3 separate regions of the Homo sapiens genome follow, and regions 2 and 3 are each reported to be linked to region 1. Evidence: microRNA targets listed by miRTarBase, many of them from high-throughput screens and not tested one by one. Region 1 holds a microRNA gene; each other region holds the end of a gene's coding sequence. Distances are from middle to middle.

Region 1 (5,074 bases):
GTACAATCACACATAAATACGCTGTGTGCAAGAGAAAGGGCCTGACTTGGTTACATCCACAGAGACATGTCCTCACAGAGTGGTCCCTCTGACCTGGTGCATCACTCACATTCTTTCAGCCTGTGTGCCAGTACTGCCTTGACTCACTGTCCCTTTTCAAGAATTCCAAGGGAAGAAGCCTTGTCTACACTTAAAAGGACAGAGCTTTTGCACATCAACTCTCCCTCCTCTTCCTTCCACAGATACTCAAGTGTCTATTAGACAGCAGGTATTATGTTCATCACCAAGGATATAGCAGGGATCAAAATGGACAGGTTGCTACCCTACATTCTGGTAGGGACTCATAAACACACTATACATAAATGTTGTGGATGAATAGGCCACTGTTCAAAAGAATGAAGTAGATCTATATGTTCCTTGTTACCCAGTCTGCATGCACAAGCATGTGCAGGTTCTGCTCAAGTGAAATTCTCAAATGTCCCCAATCCTTGTACACCAGACACACTCAGAGACATGGCCCTGCATGCAGAGAACCCCACCTACTGAAAGGGTAGGAGATGGAGCCTGTTGTGCTCTCCTCTCTCCCATTCTCAGCGTGCAAGCCAGTGAGCTTCCTTAACTCCCTTATAGATGGGGATTAAATGAGGGAAGTCTTCTTACTGCTACTTTCCTTCTTGCTGCTCTGTATAGGAGAGATCCTTTCATTACTTTTCTGTACAGTCACAGATGAACACACTATATGCGGTGAGCCTTCCCTGTAAACCCATGTGAGCACATGTGCACACACGCACACGTGCACACACACATACTCTGTATGGCTGCTTGGGCCTTCAGTCCTGTTCCCCCTCTTGAATCCTGGTACCTGGATGCAAGTGCTGTGTCAATGCGGTGCACCCAGGCAAGCATTCCACGGCTGAGCCTTTTCTGCATAGAGCGAAGAACACCTGTTTATAATCCCCATCCTTCATTCATTCCCACCTTTAACAAGCAGGGGTGGCGCTCCTGTCATGCACCAGACATGGAGAGACAGGGTGGTCAAGAAAGACACAGAACTCATACTCACATGCCTAGTGAGCATGTTTAAGAGAAGGAACTTCCGTTGCCCACATTGTTCATGCATACGTATGTAGCAGAGAGTGAGTCTTCCCATCATCCCCTCTCCAACCCCCCAACAGTGCTCAGCTAGAGAACTACAAAAGGTGTGTCTCCCCTTACACAGAGCTGCAGCCACAGTGTGCATAGGATAATGAGTGTCATTAGCAGCATCTTCTCACTCATGTCTGGTGTGCAAGGCAATAGGCTTTCTACTTGCTGCTTATGCCACCAGAGCTTGAAGGAAAGTGGCCCTACTTGTCAGTCATCTCACACATGCATATGAAGAAAAGACACTTCACCTTTGTATGGTCATAGGAAAATCACCTGTGAGCCAGAGAGTGCTGTTTCTTTTGTACATACACACAAACACAATGGATTTGAAGATGCTCGAGCCTTCTATTCAGGTTGTCCCTCTCTTTCATTCTTCGTAGTTGGGTACAAATGCTATTCCAGTCCATTGCCTTGTACAAAAATTCAGAGAGGGAATCTCATCCATGTTTAAAAGTGTAGAGTCTTTGCATCACCCCTCTATGTCCCATTATTTCATTTCTTTAAGTTATGTATAGAGCAGTGGTTCTCAGTGTGGTCCCTGGGCCAGCAGCATCTGTATCACCTAGGAGCTTGTTCAAAATGCCAATTCTTGGGCTCATCCCTGACCTACTACACCATAAACCATGGAAATCTGTACTTTACCAAGGCTCTCAACTGATTCTGATGCTCACTTAAGTTTGAGAATCACTGATTTAGTATAAGTGCTAGCTAGGGGCAGTGATAAGCTAGTCAGGTGAAGGGTGGAAGAGAATGAGCTCCTGCATTGCTCATGTACGTTCCCAATGCCGAGTCCATGCAGACTGTGGCAGGGAAGCCATCATTTCATTACTGTCTCCACCTCCTCCATAACCACACATTCAGTGAGCACATGAGGCTAAGTGAACACACAACAAGTACTTTATTAGGGAATAGACTTGGCACTGCTTCTCCAGGCGTGCACCTGACACTTTAATCTCAATCTGTCTCTCTCTCAATCAATCAATCAATCTCTCTCCTCTCTCTCTCTTTCTCTCTTTCTGTCTTTCTTTCTCTCTCCTCCCCCACCCCCCTCCCATGTGCAGAAGAATGAACTGCTCCTTCTCCCATACCCATTGCATATCGGAGTTGTGAATTCTCAAAACACCTCCTGTGTGCATGGATTACAGGAGGGTGAGCCTTGTCATCGTGAATCTTCTGCTGAACAATCCAAGTAGCCCGTGTTTATTGCGCACTTTTGATGTGCCATGAGCTGTGCTGGGAGTACCCTGCTAAATAATGGACAGTGTCTCTCTCCGGGACTTCCTATCTAGTGGAGGTATTAGGTGCCTAGACTTCCCCAGGCCTAGGCAACAGACACAGGTGTGTCAGGAATTGAGCCTTCTCATTCTCTTATGAATACACATGCTCACATTGTGCATGCATGTGCACACACACATGTGTAAGTGTAGAAACATTTCTGTACAAAGCTGAAAGGAAGGAGCCTTATTATCTAAACTTGCCTGCAAGTTTCCTTGCCACACACACTCAGATGCATGCCTGGTGTGCAGGTGCCTGGACTTTGATTTTTGCTTGCCCTCTCCTAGCCTTGCAGCCTAGGCACAAGTGCTGTCTTAGCAGTGCAATGGGCTTGTGCAAGGATACCAGCTTGTGAGCCTTGCCTATGTGTAGGACAGAGCCTGTCCATCCCTTCTCTTTCCTTTGTTCATTCTTTCAGTCAGTCATTTGTGTGTGCATGTTTTTGGTCCATTCATTTATTCATCCCTTTAACAAATTTACTGAATTCCTGCTGTTTGGGAATGCCACAGTAAACTAACCTGTCAGAGATGCCGACCTTACTGTCTAGCAGGCTCATGGAGAATAAGCATCCTCATGTCATCCAACTTCCTGTGAATACATGGGCTCAGGGTGCCAGAAATCAGGCTTTTCTTTATTCCCTCCCACAGACATGGGTACCTGTGCAAATATATGTGGTGTGCACATCCTGAGCCTGCTGCTCTGCTTCCCCTTGTATCCTTGCCACCTAAATGTGCATGCTGTCTCAGTGCAGCACCTATTCCAGGACTCTCAGAGGGGCCTTTTTCTGCCCATAGACAGACAAAGTGCCTGTGAGTCACACTTCCTCCTCCCTCTCCTTCCCCTCTACCTCCCTTTCACAAGTATTGAGCACTTAGTACATGCTAACGCTGTGCTGCCAGGGCAGTGGGCATATGGTATCACACAAGATGGACTTGGTTCTTGCCTCAAAGAATATGTGTAGGAGACTTGACTTTTTGTCACCTAATATTCCTGCACGTGCTGAGTTAGTGTGGGCCACAACATGGGACTTCTTATTGACACCCTCTCCCAACATATACACAATGCAAGACTCTCATTCCTGTTCTCACACAGAGCTGTGTAACAGAGAACCTTCTCTGCTTCGAGCACGGCAGGTGCCCAAGCCTTCTGCCCTGCTCCCCCTCTCTAATCCTTGCTATCTGGGTGCTAGTGCTGGCTCAATGCAATGCACCTGGGCAAGGATTCAGAGAGGGGGAGCTCAACTGTACCAAGAAGGACAGAGAGCCTAGACATCACCCCTCCCACCCTCCCCTGTCATAGTTTTTGAGTGATGGGTGTGTGTTGGGGAAGCACAGAACAGAATAGTTAGGGACTTCAGGTGCTCTGGTGGGCTTGTCTGTGTATTAGAATAAATGTCCTTATTAAATAATGTCCATGTATGCAGGTATCCAGAGTGAGACAGTGAGCTTTCTCTGTGTTCCCCACCTGCTGTCCACACACAGGGTGGTGGGCGGGAACCAGAGCCTTCTGATTTGCTCCCTCACTTCCTTCCAACCTAGATGTGAGTGCTGTCTCAAGTATTAAGCCAAGGATTCAATGAGATGGAGCCTTGCCTACCTATATGTATATATATGGACTGAGTGCATATATGTCTCTTTTCTTGCCTTCCTATATCTTGAGTTTCTAGAGTGTGACAGATACTCTTTTTAGTGTTAAGGATGCAGTGACAAACGAGAGTCAAAATCACTGGATGTGCTCTCTGATGGGCAGCTTTAGAAGAAAAATTCAGACGGGCACAAATGATGGGGGCCAAAGAGAGAGTCTTCCTATTCCCCCCACTCTGTCCCCTCTGAGGACAGGGAGATGCACACATTCATGAAGATTTACACTTACAGAATGTATAGGAGTTTGAGCTTATAAGCTGCCCTTTATCTTCCAGGACATCCTGAGTAGAACTGTGAGCTGCCTTTAGATGTCTATTACAGACTCTTCTTGAATTAGAGGGGGTGAAGAGCAAGGGACCCTTCTTATTGCTGATCTTGTATGCACCCCACACAATATGGAAATGAGAACAGCCTATATCTTTATATTACCTTACTTTAGTCAAATAGAGATGGACTATACATGTCTCTGTTTCAGTCTATCGCTCTCTCTGTCCGTCTCTCCATCTCTCTCTCTCTCTCACCTAGGGAGTACAGGTGCCCATGATCTGATTCACTCCCCTCCTCCCATCCTTAGCGCCTGAGCCTGAGTGCTTTCTACTGTGACCTCAGCAGTATTCTTCAGTTGTTACTCTCTTCTTAGCTAAGCTGATCTATTCATTCCTCCCCATCTTATCATTTTTGCTCATTGCCCATTGCAAATTTATAGTGTTCAGGTCAGCGTAGCAATACAGTATTATAAATAGTGGTGACAGAGACAGAAAGAGACACACACTCCATTTCAGTCCTCAAGTTCTTAAACATTTGGGACTTATAGATTCTGATCCTTGGTCCTTCTTCTCTCCCAGATTCTCCCAATCTAACCTGCAGTAAAGATTCAGGTTATTTAATATGTGCTCCTTATCTTTTGTATACTCTAAAATCTCATTTTGGTTACTGCTCAGCCTTAGTCTTATTTTATCAGACTTTATACCTCTCTTGATGCCCAAGACTAGCAGCATCAGCATCCTCCA
Region 2 (5,074 bases), 58 Mb from region 1:
CAGAATATCAGAAATAACAGATTTCCTGAAGTCTGGGACCTATGGTCATTGAAGCTACAGAACATATGGTTTCACATGAAATTTCAAAGTTAGCATCTCCCTAACTTGTTCTTTTCTGGGCCTTCTTTCTTGCAGGCCAATGACAAAGATAAACCCAAGGGGAGAAAGCGAAGCAATGCCAAGAGAAGACGCTACCCAACTAGAAGTAACTCTACCATCTTCCATTCATGAGACTGGCCCTGATACCATCCAAGAACCAGACTATGAGCCAAAGCCTACTCAGGAGCCTGCCCCAGAGCCTGCCCCAGGATCAGAGCCTATGGCAGTGCCTGACCTTGACATCGAGCTGGAGCTGGAGCCAGAAACGCAGTCGGAATTGGAGCCAGAGCCAGAGCCAGAGCCAGAGTCAGAGCCTGGGGTTGTAGTTGAGCCCTTAAGTGAAGATGAAAAGGGAGTGGTTAAGGCATAGGCTGGTGGCCTAAGTACAGCATTAATCATTAAGGAACCCATTACTGCCATTTGGAATTCAAATAACCTAACCAACCTCCACCTCCTCCTTCCATTTTGACCAACCTTCTTCTAACAAGGTGCTCATTCCTACTATGAATCCAGAATAAACACGCCAAGATAACAGCTAAATCAGCAAGGGTTCCTGTATTACCAATATAGAATACTAACAATTTTACTAACACGTAAGCATAACAAATGACAGGGCAAGTGATTTCTAACTTAGTTGAGTTTTGCAACAGTACCTGTGTTGTTATTTCAGAAAATATTATTTCTCTCTTTTTAACTACTCTTTTTTTTTATTTTAGACAGAGTCTTGCTCCGTCGCGCAGGCTGTGATCGTAGTGGTGCGATCTCGGCTCACTGCAACCTCCGCTCCCTGGGTTCAAGCGATTCTCCTGCCTGAGCCTCCTGAGTAGCTGGGACTACAGGCACGTGCCACCACGCCCGGCTAATTTTTTGTATTTTTAGTAGAGATGGGGTTTCACGTTGTTAGCCAGGATGGTCTCCATCTCCTGACCTCATGATCCGCCCACCTTGGCCTCCCAAAATGCTGGGATTACAGGCATGAGCCACTGCGCCCGGCCTCTTTTTAGCTACTCTTATGTTCCACATGCACATATGACAAGGTGGCATTAATTAGATTCAATATTATTTCTAGGAATAGTTCCTCATTCATTTTTATATTGACCACTAAGAAAATAATTCATCAGCATTATCTCATAGATTGGAAAATTTTCTCCAAATACAATAGAGGAGAATATGTAAAGGGTATACATTAATTGGTACGTAGCATTTAAAATCAGGTCTTATAATTAATGCTTCATTCCTCATATTAGATTTCCCAAGAAATCACCCTGGTATCCAATATCTGAGCATGGCAAATTTAAAAAATAACACAATTTCTTGCCTGTAACCCTAGCACTTTGGGAGGCCGAGGCAGGTGGATCACCTGAGGTCAGGAGTTCGAGACCAGCCTGGCCAACATGGCGAAACCCCTTCTCTACTAAAAATACAAAAATTAGCTGGGCGTGGTAGTGCATGCCTGTAATCCCAGCTACTTGGGAGGCTGAGGCAGGAGAATCGCTTGAACCCAGGAGGTGGAGGTTGCAGTGAGCCGAGATTGTGCCACTGCACTCCAACCTGGGTGACAGAGTGAGATTCCATCTGAAAAACAAAAACAAAAACAGAAAACAAACAAACAAAAAACAAAAAATCCCCACAACTTTGTCAAATAATGTACAGGCAAACACTTTCAAATATAATTTCCTTCAGTGAATACAAAATGTTGATATCATAGGTGATGTACAATTTAGTTTTGAATGAGTTATTATGTTATCACTGTGTCTGATGTTATCTACTTTGAAAGGCAGTCCAGAAAAGTGTTCTAAGTGAACTCTTAAGATCTATTTTAGATAATTTCAACTAATTAAATAACCTGTTTTACTGCCTGTACATTCCACATTAATAAAGCGATACCAATCTTATATGAATGCTAATATTACTAAAATGCACTGATATCACTTCTTCTTCCCCTGTTGAAAAGCTTTCTCATGATCATATTTCACCCACATCTCACCTTGAAGAAACTTACAGGTAGACTTACCTTTTCACTTGTGGAATTAATCATATTTAAATCTTACTTTAAGGCTCAATAAATAATACTCATAATGTCTCATTTTAGTGACTCCTAAGGCTAGTCCTTTTATAAACAACTTTTTCTGACATAGCATTTATGTATAATAAACCAGACATTTAAAGTGTACAATTTGATGAGTTTTGACAGAGCACATACCCATGAAACCACCACACCCATCTAGAGAGAAAACATTTCCATCAGCCCAAAATGTTTCTTCATGCCCCTTTGTGCGATCCCACCATTGCCCTGGACCTAGGAAATCACTCATTGTTTTCCATCACTAGAGGTTAACTTTGCCTTTTCTTGGCCCTCATACATATGGGATGATACAGTATGTACTTTTTGTGTCTCACTTCCTTCTAAGGTGAATCCTTTTTAAACAAAGTAGTGAGTTTCTCATTTATCACTTTCAGATTTTCATGTAAAATATTTTCTTAAACTGCAAACTCCTTTCTATATAAATCATAACCATACACAGATTGAGGTAGAGTCTCTGTAGGTTTTAAGGAGAGTTAAAATGGAAATTAACATTACACTTATCTAGAGCCATGGAGAGAAGAGATAGCAAGCGTTTATTTCTGCATTTTCTTCGATGCGTCCATTTTCAGAAAATGTCAGGGATTTCTGATGCATTTATAATTTCATTCATACTAAATATGATAGTATGGTATATGGTGTCTGATGGACACAAGAAGCAAAATAATGAAGGTCTTAAGAATGACCTAATATTTAGAGATTAAAAAGTAAACAACAGTGTAAACATCTCAATTACCAGAATGCCCAAGTAGCTGGAATTCATTTTTCCTTTCCATTTTTATTATAGAGGCAAATCGCAAGAGACTGACATGTAATAGTCAACAATTACACCCCAAAATTTTTGATGGATCAGTGCAGTCCAGGAAAGAAAGCACTACTGGTAGTCTTATAGAGCTCTGTCCTTATTAGCACTGTTCTGTTCAAAATACTGATGAATAGTTGGATCAGTGGCTTGTAACCTTTTTCTGAGGTCATGGAACACCTTGAGAATCTGCTGAAAACTCTAAACTCATCTTCACTGAAAGATGCTTATACACATAAAGTGTCACATATAGTTTCAGGTGAGTTACAGACTCCCTGAATCCAAGATGAAGAAACAGTTACTTAGATCAAAACACACAAAGTACACTTAATAAATTTGTGGATGACTTGCTCCTAGGGGGAATGGCCACTAGGCTATAAGAAAGAATCACGATTCAGAATGATCTTGATAGCTCAAAAGTGGAGTTGAAACCAACAAAATGAATTTGACAGGAATAAATAGAAAAATCTGGATTTAAAAATATGAAGTACATGTTGCCCAGGCAGAAACCCTACATGGGCAAGGTTAGGAAGCACATGAGATTAATCTGAATTCGTACCTTTGGATCTCTCCTTTCAGTGCCATTTCTGGCCTTGTGGCATCTTATTTTCCAAACACCCAGGATTCTCATGCTCCCATTAGCTCAGTGACCCTCTCAGTTCTTCTTCCCTCGGGCAAGACTCATTGCGCAGGACCTAAAGTAGCTGTTCTGTAACCTGTTCTTGTCCAGTGAACATGATCTTTCATCATTCAGTGATCTCATTAGGTTGATAAATGAGTTAGTCTTCTTTGGAGTATTTACCTTTTAAAGAGGACTCAAGCACAGATAATCCTTAATCTGAAGAGTCTAAACAATCCAGAGGAGATATATTTCTGAAAAAAGGAAACTTCTCAGCCCCTCTCAAATCAAACCAGGTGGTTTACCACCCATTCAATCTACTCTGGGCAACTCAGTTTTGATCAACTTTGATCAGAGCTAGAAGAGTGCTCTGAAATAAATAGTATTCAAACTTTTTCAACCCCAGCACACCTGAGTTATAACACATACAGTGGGCCACTCCTAACAATGATGAAGCTGGAGGTGGGAGATGATGTACAATTAAATTATTGGTGGGGGAGACAGGAAGGGGTAAATGTTCTTTTAAAAAGCTGGTTCACTCTTATATATTGCCACCCAGCCCCTAGAGGAGAATCCCTGAGTGCAGAGAAGTAAAATAATCTGCCTGAGATTACGCAAAGTCAAAACTAGATCCACATCATCTGGATTTCAGGGCAATGCTTTTCAACTGCACCAAACTACTAATTTCAGTGAAACAAACCCAAGCTTTAGTAATAAAAAGTTGTTTTACAATGTCTACCTGCTGGAAAACACATCAGTGGGCCTCATAAAAGGTTTAAACTAATCGATAAAGACTCAGTACTCCCACTTGTCTTTGAAACTTTGGTTTAAAAACAAAACAAATAATTCAGAGATGATAATGAGGGCTCCAGGAAACCATAAAAAGATATGCCAATAAAGAAAAACTGTTCCACTACTCACAACACTTCAGAAAGCAAATGTGTGGGGTTTCCACACCAAGTAATTCTCCAATTCTCTGCAGACACTGACTGGGTGTCCTGCAATTTAATTCAATTCTGACACTACCCAGGGTTGGGTCTGACAAGACTGCCCCCAACTTCAGACACATCACAAGTATTGGGTGCCCAGTGTACCCACACTTCTGTTAGACTTGGGTACAAATTGGGGGTTCCCGCAACCTCAAGTTTGATAATTTGCTGTAATGGCTCATAGAACTCAAGGAAACACTGTTGTCCACCAGTTTATTATAAAGGACATTATAAAGGATACAGATGAATGGCCAGCTGAAGAAGTACATAGGGTGAGGTCCAGAAGGGTCCTGAACATAGGAGCTTCTGTTCCCATGGAGTGGGGGTGTACCACTCTTCTGGCATGTGGGTGTGTCACCAACCTAGATGCTCACCAAACCCTGTAGTTTATGAATTTTTATGGAGGCTTCATCACATAGGTATGATCAACTATTAACTCAATCTCCAGCCCCTCTTCCCTCCCTGGAGGATGGGGGGTTGGG
Region 3 (5,074 bases), not on the chromosome of region 1:
ATTTTAAAGTCTGAGTCTGTGGTCTTTGATTTTTCTACAACTACATACATAAAAAGGCACCCTATGTCTTCCTGGGTATCTTTTATTTTTTCCCTGTAGACTGCCTGATAGACGCCTTGTGCCAAATGTGTGGTCATATTATTTTTTTCATCCAAACCCAATGGATTTTTGGCAGTTAACCCAATTCTGGTGTGCTCTCCTGTTGTGGGAAAACAGGGTAACAGACACTTTGGCCCAATACATTGCAGGGACTCGGCATCCATCTCAAGCTGGCAAATCCATCTCAACCTTCGAATTTTAATGTTAAGAAATAAGTACAGTGACCACATAGTACTAGAAGCCACAGTTTATTTTTATTTTTATTTTTTTTGAGACAGAGCTTCACTCTTGTTGCCCAGGCTGGAGTGTAATGGCGCGATCTTGGCTCACTGCAACCTCCGCCTCCCGGGTTCAAGCGATTCTCCTGCCTCAGCCTCCTGAGTACCTGGGATTACAGGCATGCACCACCACACCTGGCTAATTTTGTATTTTTTTTAGTAGAGACGGGGTTTCTCCATGTTGGTCAGGCTGGTCTGAAACTCCTGACCTTAGGTGATCCACCCGCTTCGGCCTCCCAAAGTGCTGGGATCACAGGCATGAGCCACAGCACCCGGCCTTAGAAGCCACAGTTTTACCCTTTAGTGTGAAAGAGTTTAATCAGATAATCCTCCTAACATCTGACTGAGCTCTAGAGGGAAGGTAGAGGGGTCTCAATGCAATGGATGGGGTTGAGACTACAGAGGGCCAACTCCAAAAGCGGGGTTCTAGACAGCCGGAGAGCAGCTGGAAGGTCCTTCAAAGGCATATTGGCCTTGGGACAGCGCTTTGTCTTGTGATTTTTTTTTTTTATGAGGCCATCGTTCCATCAGCCAAACGTTCTGCCGAGTGGAGAGGTGGCTATGGGCTTCCAAAATGGTAGCCAAGAGAATACGCGACTATAGGTAGATGGAGTGAGTCTAGTTTTTTTCCCTTTTGCATCTAATTCTTCCTCCTAATTATTTCAGATAATTTGGCAACCTTGTCCCTGGAAATCTGGCACCACTGGGGCTCCTGTCTCTCAGAATTAAAAAAAAAAAAAAATCCAGTCTCTGCACAAGCCTCCCAGTGAGCTGCCACCCAATAGGAGAGACAGATCAAAGCTGCCTTTTCTTAGCAACTGAAGCCTTGCCCAGCCACCGTAGAAGAGATCTCTGCCAAACTCCCTCCTCTTTGAAGAAACACAACAGAGTCCAAGTGAGAAGTAGCTACAGTTTAATACAAACCTGCACCAGAACACAACGTGTCGGGCTGTTTAGTTTTTGCCTCAAACGGTGGCCAAAGCACAGGACCATGTGTCGTCTTGGGGTTGACACAGTCTTAGCACCATGACATTTACAGGGGAGTGGGGAAGTCACCTGGGTGCTGGGGTGCTGGAGGCTCCATCCGACCCCAGGCTGTGCCTGCGCCTCAGCAGCTGGAGGGGGTTTGGGTTTCCTTGTGGTTCTGTGGCTTCTGGGTCAGTATCAGAAAAGCCCTCATCACGACATCGGCTTGACAGAGACCTACTGTGGACTCCTAGCACTACACACACGCACGCACACGCACACACAGTAGCACAATTTTCTGGCAACTTAACCCCACAAACCTAGAGAGCAGCTAAGGCAAGAACAACAGTATTTATTCAGCAAGTACAAGACCAGTTTGAGAGCTGCATTCAGTGCAACCAGAGACCCTTTCGTTCCAACCAGGAGCCAGTGGGGCTGGTGACGAAGCTGGCTGGAGCTCTGCACGGGGCAAGGAGTGCATGGTGGGGGCTGACCGCTCATTTGGCTCCTTGAATCTCTTTCTGATTTCTATCTAGAAGCTCCCGGGCAAGGGTAGGGCCTATGTAGGGACTGGGGGTGGATGAAGCGCATGGCCTACAGTGGACCACTCCAAGACGTGGTTCCCTGGTGCCACGGGTCACACATCTCTCAGGCGGAGGCACTCAGAGAAGGTAAAGCTTTCCTAGCCCAAGCAAGGATGCTCTGCCCAGCTGGCCACCACCGCTGCTGCTGGGCTCTTTGACATCTGCCCAAGGCCCATGACCCAGTGAGGGCTGACAGGGATAGAGATGGTGTGCACTGCACCAGGAGGCGGCGTCATGGTTTCCCCCATCCCTGGTGGCTTTCCCAGGCCTGGGTCCTCACCCCTGTTCCAATGGCTGCCACTTGCCATGAGCCCCTTCGCCACCTCTGCTCCCCGGCTGACCACCTCTGTCCTCTCAGCCCCTGAGTGAGGAAAGGGGGAGTGAAGGGAGAAGTGAGGGTGTGGACGCAGCTCACACTGCACGGTTAGCCCCCAATGGGTGACTAGTCTTGGCTCAAACACAGAATGTGCATGAGGTTGTTTATAAGAAAGATGAGAAAAAAAATCTATCTTCCTGTGCAAAACAAAGCAGGCTGCCTACCAGGAAAGTAAGTCTTCTCATTGGTTAAACTCTCAGGTGGGATCTACAATAGATGTCACCCCAGACCTCCTCTCCACAGGTGGGGTAGATAGCCAAGGTTGGGAGGGTCATCACAGACACTTCTGGGGTCAGAGGACCTGAACTTTCTGGGTCTTAGTTTCCTCATCTGTAAAATGGGAAGAATAATAAGTGCTCCATTGTCATGAGGACTAAGTGAGAGGTCATATACGGAAGTGGTTTGAATACATGAAAAGCACTACAGAGATGTGCAGGGGCTGACTTTTTTGTTTGTCTGTTTTTTGAGATGGAGTCTCACTCTGTCGTCCAGGCTGAAGTGCAGTGGCGTGATCTTGGCTCACTGCAAGCTCCGCCTCCCGGGTTCACGCTATTCTCCTGCCTCAGCCTCCTCAGTAGCTGGGACTACAGGCGCCCGCCACCACGCCTGGGTAATTTTTGTATTTTTAGTAGAGACGGGGTTTCACCGTGTTAGCCAGGATGGTCTCGATCTCCTGACTCCATGATCCACCCGCCTTGGCCTCCCAAAGTGCTGGGATTACAGGCGTGAGCCACCGCACCCGGCCAGGGGCTGACCTTTAACCGAGGGTCCAGAAGCCTCGCGCAAGCCTCGGGGGCTGAAATCACATGTGCAACATGAAGTCACTTCCCACGGGGCAGACCAGGCTTAACAAGGGCAGGCGGCTGGGTCACTTCCCAGATCACTGGAGGTGGAAGGAGACACCCGGCCTCTAGTGTTTCCATGGGAACTTCTGTGGGGCTTTAGAAGCAGGGAGGGCCCACCTGGATGGACAGGGGAGAAGATGAGGCCATGAGCTGGCAAGGGCCTGGTGCCGACCACGGGAGATCACGGCACCTGAGCAGCAATGCGGGTTCGACAGCCAGGTCCTGTGGGCCTGGGGTCTCCCTCTCTGGTGTCTGGCAAGCCCCTCTCCCACTCCTCCTCTCTCAGCAGGCATGAGGCCTCTTGCCAGTCACACAGGAGGAGCGCTGAGTCTCTGTCCAGCAGGAAGAAGTTATAGGAAGCCGTGCGTGTGTGTGTGTGTGTGTGTGTGTGTGTGTGTGTGTGGTGGCAGGTGAAGACAGGGGAAGGCAAGGGGAGTGCTGGGAGTGATCAGGGGCAGAGAGGGGAAAGGACACCTGCTTCCTGAAGGGCTGGCATCTCTGGGGCTAGCATCCCAGGCCCCCTTTTGGAATGTGGGAAACTAGACAAGGAGGGGAGGGGAAGGGGAAAGGGCCAGGGCCTCCCGCAGCCCAGAAGACTGCAGGCGGGGAAAAGAGAGGCCTGTGAGCCCAGCCCCCTCCACCACCCCTGCCCTGTGCTGTCTGGTTGGTGTCAAGTGCAGCGTCTCCTAAGGACCACATCTATTCCTGTCGCTATTCTATGCTAGTGACACAAGCACCGTTATTTTTCACAGGATGCACAAACAAGTCAAACCAAACTACTGCGCAAACCAAACGTGCAAAACAAAACCATTTACACGCGCCTGGCACCAGCCTCGAGCCCCGCCCAGCTACCCTTCTGGGCCTGTGACCCCCCGAGGGTGTGGGCGGGGCGCAGGAGAAGCTGGCGAGGGGCACCAGGAGTCCCAGCCACCCCCATCCCTGCCCCTACACAGGGCCAGAGGTGGGTTGGGGGAGATAGGACGTCCTGGGCATGGCTGGGAAGCTGACATCTGTCTGACTTGGGAAATGTCACCACGGGGCCTAAGGGGTGGGGGAGGAGGCCTTTACTTTGAAACCACATCTGCTAAAGTGCTCTGGGCAACTGGCCAGTCAGCCAGGGGGCAGGGCACTAAAGTCTGGGCTTTCCCAAAGCCAGCGGAGGCAGGAGTGAGAGGAAGGGCTGGCCAGGGCTCTATGCATTGGGCTCTGTGCATAGTGTGGGCTTCCTGGGCCCCAGAAAAGCCCGCCGAGGCCAAGGCAGAAAGGACTACAGCAGGAGGAACACATCTCAAAGTGCCTGTTAGAGTTGGCTCGAAGCACAGTGAATCACTTTGCAGACATAGGGAGGGCTCCGTGGGTCCCGGGGCCCCCCTCGGGTGGTGTGCCACCCAGCCCAGCCTCTCCTGCCCCTGCAGCTTCGGCTGGAGAGTTGCGGGCTGGTGGCGGCGGTGCGTCCTCACTCGGGGGGCTTGGCAATGCCTTTACCAAATGCCACTCGACCTGCCTCCGGGAGGAGCGAGGATCCGAGCTGAAGCTCGCTTTGGAACATGGTCATCGATCTGAGAGCCTGCAGGGAAGGAAGCACAGAGGGTGAGACGGGCTCTTGTGCCTGCTAACAAACCACAGACACCCTCTCCTGGAGGCTCACTGTGTGCATGGCCTGAGTGAATCCTCACAGCCACTCCATCCCATCTTATAGATGAGGAGACAGAGGCTCAGGGAAGTTAAGTGACTTGCCCCATGTTGCAGTGTGTAAGTGGCAGAGCCTGGACTTGGACCCAGGTTTTCCTGATTCAGAGCCGACATTATTAACTGCCCACTGTGCCAACTTCACTGCCCCATGCCTAGGCATACAGTCTCTCGTACATGCAGGTCATTGGCCAGCCTGTTGGCACATGGGCCTTTGTACATATGCCTCAGTGAGTA

What was found. The annotated mature microRNA hsa-miR-660-3p reads ACCUCCUGUGUGCAUGGAUUA and lies in region 1 at 2,268-2,288, shown strand. An mRNA with a match to its seed (bases 2 to 7 or 8) in the 3' UTR can be bound and repressed. Matches are read on the target gene's strand: a 7mer-m8 pairs with bases 2 to 8, a 7mer-A1 pairs with bases 2 to 7 and ends in A, and an 8mer does both.
Region 2: miRTarBase lists VSIG1 as a target of hsa-miR-660-3p. Seed matches in the 3' UTR shown: 7mer-m8 at 1,602-1,608.
Region 3: the mRNA of DPYSL5 is a reported target of hsa-miR-660-3p. Seed matches in the 3' UTR shown: 7mer-A1 at 3,421-3,427.

The regions. Positions count from the first base shown.
Region 1 is chrX:50,011,025-50,016,098 of GRCh38, forward strand. It overlaps MIR660 (microRNA 660), which reads left to right and starts at 2,217; the gene lies at 2,217-2,313. All of the region lies in intron 3 of CLCN5 (chloride voltage-gated channel 5), which reads left to right. MIR502 (microRNA 502) reads left to right here and starts at 3,574; the gene lies at 3,574-3,659.
Region 2 is chrX:108,076,913-108,081,986 of GRCh38, forward strand. It overlaps VSIG1 (V-set and immunoglobulin domain containing 1), which reads left to right. Exons shown (of 7, transcript NM_182607.5): 7 at 136-2,272. The coding sequence ends at 469. Among named protein-coding and RNA genes, the nearest start is that of PSMD10, 12 kb to the right of the region's middle.
Region 3 is chr2:26,946,551-26,951,624 of GRCh38, reverse strand. It overlaps DPYSL5 (dihydropyrimidinase like 5), which reads right to left. Exons shown (of 13, transcript NM_020134.4): 13 at 1,274-4,715. The coding sequence ends at 4,630. It overlaps LOC124905979 (a long non-coding RNA gene), which reads left to right. Exons shown (of 3, transcript XR_007086251.1): 3 at 1,044-1,110. Among named protein-coding and RNA genes, the nearest start is that of MAPRE3, 22 kb to the left of the region's middle. RefSeq lists an enhancer at 1,556-2,056.